Linked DNA regions of Homo sapiens: region 2 is linked to region 1. Evidence: fine-mapped expression QTL. Tissue or cell type: thyroid. Region 1 holds a variant in brackets; the other region holds the start of a gene. All regions are shown on one strand. Distances are between the middles of the regions. Region 1 overlaps LINC01250 (long intergenic non-protein coding RNA 1250). Region 2 holds the start of LINC01250 (long intergenic non-protein coding RNA 1250).

Evidence for each region.
Region 2: LINC01250 starts here. The variant in region 1 is fine-mapped to the expression of LINC01250 in thyroid (GTEx, PIP 0.93).

Annotation. Positions count from the first base shown.
Region 1 is chr2:3,101,703-3,104,505 of GRCh38, forward strand. All of the region lies in intron 3 of LINC01250 (long intergenic non-protein coding RNA 1250), which reads right to left. Among named protein-coding and RNA genes, the nearest start is that of LINC01250, 23 kb to the right of the region's middle. RefSeq lists an enhancer at 256-1,040. The variant C/A (reference allele first, on the strand shown) is at 1,215.
Region 2 is chr2:3,124,916-3,127,718 of GRCh38, forward strand. It overlaps LINC01250 (long intergenic non-protein coding RNA 1250), which reads right to left and starts at 1,111. Exons shown (of 7, transcript NR_110228.1): 1 at 912-1,111; 2 at 647-740; 3 at 380-523. RefSeq lists a silencer at 2,492-2,656.

The DNA of each region.
Region 1 (2,803 bases):
AGACTGAGGCTTTCCAGAGCTAATCAAGCTAAGATGAGGTCATCAGGGTGGGCCCTGATCCAACGCGACTGGGGTCCGTGTAAAGGAAGACATTTGGAGACAGACACACATGCAAAGAGAATGTCCCCATGAAGATGAGGACGGCCACCTGCCCACCAGGAGAGGAGCAGCAGCAGACCCCGCCCTCACAGCCTCCGAGGAGCCAGCACGATGTCATGTTCCCTGAAACTCATCTGGCGAAGCCCTCACGCCCAGCACCTCAGGAAGGGATTGTATTTGGAGAAGGATCTTTAAAGAAGTAACTAAGATAAATGAGGCCATCAGGGTAGGCCCTGATCCAATAGGACTGGTATCCTCACACAAAGAGGAGACGAGGACACAGACACACAAGCAAAGAGATAGGGGGCCAAGGGGTCGGCACAAGCACCAGGGTGCCCGCCCAGACCACTGGAGGGGACATCTGGGCACATGACCTCACACCCCCTTTAACCCTCCCTAGCCCCCATGTTGGGGAGAGCAGCGCCAGGAGTAGAGACAAGTGCCCCTCTCACCCCACACTGACCTGGGGTCCGGAGCGCCCTGGGGTCCTGAGACAGGCAGGTGGGAGGCCGAGCCCCTGGGACCATTCTCCCCGCACGCTGCTCACAGCTGCCTTTTTCTGGTCTACAGAGAACAAGCTGAAGCTGGAATCAGCCGCAGGTCACTGTGTGCTGCACCACGACAAGCATGTTCACCTTTGCTCCTCACCGGGGTCCACACAAGCGTCCCGCGAGGACCAACGCTGGGGCCGGCCTTCTGGGTCACAGTGCTGGGCGCACAGCGGAAGTCAGGGCTCGCCTCTCTGTGTGGGCCTTCTTGCCAGCGGAAGCACTCCCCTGGGTTTGACCCTGATGGGTTAGGCACTTAAACTTGCAGCTGTGGCAGAGGAGGTGAGGCCAAGACCAGAACAGCCCCCTCCACCCTGCACAGGCAGCTCCAGGCCTGCTGATGACCACAGACCGTTGGTTGGCCCTGGGAGCGCCGTTCACGCTCCTGCCTCCTCCGAGCAGGACCCAAAGACTCTCACCAAGCACACACCAAACGCACCAGTGCGGCACAGCCTGAAGGAGGGCAGACGGGCCACACGAGGCCCCACCCTTCAGGCTCCACTAAACAGCCATGAAGGAATTAGAAAGCTGTAAACATACAAGAGCAGAGAGAACAAGAGAACGGGG[C/A]TGTAGGCGGTAGGTGACGCAAGACTGCCTGAATAGGAGGTGGGACGGAGCGAGCCAAGGCCACCACCCAGCTGTGCTACGAGGGGACCGAGGAGGGACCACTTGGCTCCCCCCAGGGAGGAGAGTCAGACCTGGAGGGCACCAGTGCACAGAAAGGAGCTGGGGTTGGGGCGGGCATGGATGAGGAGCGACATCGGGAATGGGGGATTGGGTGAGAATTCACAGAGAGGGTGGATAACCCAGGGGTCCTCCAAATGCACACAACAGATCATTCTCTACCCCTCCCCAGACCACACACACCAAGAGCAGAAAACAAAAGACACTTCCTAGAGAAAATCTAACAACAGGGGCCTGTGCCTGGGGCACCAGGTGAAGGTGAAGGTGGACTCCATGGGGTTAATTAAACTCCACACACTGGGAACCTGTCCCCTCAGCTTGCTTCCCAAATCCATCACCACCCCTCCACCCTCTGCCACACTCCTGCTAGTAGGCTGCTAACACCAGGCTTAAATCCCAAGCAATAGATCAGAGAGTTTTGCTAGGAATCACTGAACAGCTTCGGAAAAAGCACCTCTAGATACTAAGACTCACCTGTCACACTACCCCATAACCCGACTCTGAGGTCAACCAGTTGGCAAACTCTGCCATGCACAGGGAGCTTCCAATAAATGTTTAGTTCCTCGCTGTTAAATATGAGCAGACAGCCAAGCATGAAATAGAGAACAAAAGGGGAAACAGAATCAGGAGGAAACACATGATAAAACAAACACAGAAAAATTGAAGAAAGATTTATATACAAGAAATGCTCTCAGACTAGGGAACTATTGAATTTGCTTTTTTTTTTTTAAGGAATACAAGAGAATAAGAAAAAGAAAGTTCTTTAAAAATTAAAATGATGATAGATGAAATTCAAAGGACAAATTGGAAAATAAAGTAAAAGAAATCTGCTAGAGATGAAGAATAACAGAGAAAATGTTAAAGATGTAGAGGATTAGCACAGGCTGTCCAACATCTAACTAATAGAAACATCAAAAAAGAGGATGGATGGAAGGAGATGATCAAAGAAACAATACAAGACATTTTTTCTCACCTGAAAAGCCCCACTGAGTACCCATCGGAGTAAATGAGGGAGGATGCACGCCACTGTGTATAAAATTTTAAACAACCAAAATAAATAAATAAAAGATCTTAAAGACTTCCAGAAAGGAAAAGCAGGTCACATGCAAAGAAAAGAAAGAGAGTGGCGTGTGGATTTCAGCAGCACCAGCTTCTCGAAAACCATGGAGCCTCGCTTCAGCTTTTGATTTCTTCAGCCAGCAAAATGATCACGTTGCGTAGAATAAAGCCATTTCCAGGTGTGCAAGGACTAAAAACACAGTGTTTTAGACTGGACTCAAAAAAGAGCATAAACAAAAAACAAATGAATGAACAAAAGACAGAGAGTACAGGACGCAGAAAACCCAGGGTCCCAGAGCAGGGAGAGGATTCCCGGGACCGTGGCAGACTCATTCCCAGGGTGACAGCCACGGAGCGGGCTGAGAGACAGCAGTCCAGGGTAGGCAGAAGGGGTGGGTTGCCCCTCCACACCT
Region 2 (2,803 bases), 23 kb after region 1:
TGTGAAATCCACATGAATACTAAAGAATGTATGTTTTCTCCAAAAAGAGTGTGTGCCTGAACATAAGATTACCACGCACGCTGCGATGAGCTGGGAACACCATCTCATCTCTGCACAGAGCCGCCGTTTCAAAGACGCAAGAGCTGGGAATCTCAGCAAATCAAATTGCACAACATGAAGCGCTGTCTCTATCGCGCGGTTAGCTTACTGCTATCATTTGTGGGAAATACGAGGCGCTAAAATTCTGACACCACATTCCTTGCAGAGCCTTGCAACGGGAAGAAGAAATGGCACGGCGTGAACCCAGTCTCTCAAATGAGTCGGCCAAACCTTGACAATTGATCTAGCGCCACTGCAGTTTATCCCACAAAAGCCTTACCCTAAGTCCAGCGGATCCCCACGCAATCTGAGAGTGCCAGGCAGGCCCCATTATTCCAGGACCACAAAGGGAGCCCGTGCCCTTGGCGAGGACTCCAGGGCTCTAAAGATGACTGGATAGCAGCAGCTGTCACAAAGCCTGTTCCTAGGCATAACAGAAATTGGAAAAGTTTGTTTCCAGTGCCTCTGCACACTCCCCACCCCACCCTTCAACACCGCCTTCCATCGTTCCCCTCCACCCCCTTGCGTGCAGCAGTTTTTGCTGTACCTAAAAGGACTTGTTTTGCAAGTGAAGACTTGCCGCCAGGAGAAGGACGCTGCCATGACAGGCGCTTTACACACGTGTTCTAATCACAGCTATCCTGAAAGACAAACTATGTTCGCATCCTCATTTTACAGAGAAAGACATGAAACCTCTATGAGTGAAGAATTTGCCAAAAGGGGCCCTGCCTCAGCCCCCTGGGCCCTGCCATACTCCAGGAGAGACGGTCAGCACCCTGGGTCCTGGGCAGCCATGGAGGGAGGCCACACACCTTCCGAGGCATCCAGTGCCACCACAGACACAGCGCCTTCTCCTCTGCCCAGACCTGCCCCCTGCTTGGGGCTTTTGGACCCTCTCCCCACATCCAGTGTGCCTACTGTGTTCTCTCCTCGGGAGGACCCTGTTGTCTGCTAAGGTCACAATGACACCCAGTGTGGAGGCAACGTGGGTGGCTGGTGACTCTTTCCTCATGCCACACGCTCAGCACGCTTCCAGGGAGCCCTTGATGGGTGGGCCCAGCGCTGTTCCCACGGCACCAAGAGAGACAAGGTCTCCACCAATACAGCGTGAGCAGGGAGGGGGCAGACGAGGAAGGACAGTTCTGTGTCCCAGCATCAGTGACTGGGTTTTAGATAAGTAGGTCTAGGTCTCCTCTGGCCTCTTCCACCCTCTTATGTATAGATCCATACCAAATTGTTTAAATGCCCTGACTCTTCATCTGTAAAATAGGGCAATGACCGCCCACACTGCTCCTGCTGCCTCTTCTCAACAAGGGGGTTGTGCAGATCCGAGAGGGAAGCCGCACACAGGAAGGTTGTTGAGATGGGAGAGGGAGACCGCGCAGCTTACAGGTAGATGCTGCTTCTGAAGCTGCTGGCGGATTGGGGTGCGCGTCACAAGGTGGAGTTTGCTTTTAGAACCCAAATGACAAAGATCTCTGAGTTATAAGCACCTCTCACCTCAACCAGCAGCAGCAGAGGGGGCTGAGTGGTCATCACAGGGTCTCCTAGGAACACAGAGACGACCTGGCCTGGCCCTGTCCACTTACTGCCGGTGAGACCCTGGCCATGTCACTTAATGTCTGGCAAACTCACTTTTCTCACCTGTAAAATGGGTTCCTAGCCCTGCCTCGCCTGCTTGCTGGGTGGTGAGGATCACAGCCTGGACTGGGAGATGGGTGGGGCGTGCATGAATAGGCAGAGAGGAAATGAAAGGCTGCTCCAGCTTGCCCAAGGGCCAGAGACGGTCCATGCTTGGTGTGCTGGAGTTGGGGCTGAGAGAGAGACAGTGTTATTTTCCTGGAGATAGGACTTCTTATTTCGCTGGAGTACCCAGCTTTGGACAGGAAATCACTTGTTCATTGTTATCAGCCTGGGAGAGGAAATAAGGGCCCACATCTCTGCACTGCTTGCCCTGGAATGTGATTTATTGGAAACACTGGATAACTCATAGATGATAAAAACAACTGAAATGAGGCCCTGGAAGCTGCTCTGGCCTGAGCTCAGCGCAGCCCTGAGGCAGCAGCCGGGCAGGGAAGCCTGAGAGCTGCTGGGGCCGCAGGGACTCGGCCACGTCCAGCCACACAAAACAAACCAAACGTTTCGGGCGATCCTGGGGCAGCATCCTTTCCTCATCCTGCCTGGGCCAGGAGCCTGGGGCTACGAAGTCGTAAAGACTTACCCAGTGCATTCTGTCCAGAATCAGGGGCCCCTCTCAAGAGAAAATACAGCATCACAAAAGTCCACACGGAGGCACATTGGCGGCTGTCATGCTTTGTTGATCCCCGTGACAGATGCTGAAACACCAGCTAGTAAAATGGACACTTTGGGGCTGACATCTGCTGCTGTGCCTGTAATGAGCACTTCCTGTATGCAGGCAGCTGGGTGCCAGGCACAGGAAATCTACACAGGCCACAGAATAATTTGATTTGGGCTTTCTACGGAGTGCGCGCCGTCTCTGAGCTTTCGTGATTTCATCTTCCGGAAGGCGAAAATCATCCCTCTGCTGAATTGGGTTTTGATTTGCTGGTGTTCACCTGACAGGACGCATCTCCCGCGAAGAAGCAGTGTTTGACTCCGTGCTGCAGGGTTGTTTTGTCTCCGAAATGCAAACCAGCTACTTTTTTAATCCCATGGAGACCGTCCAGACACCAGACATTACTAT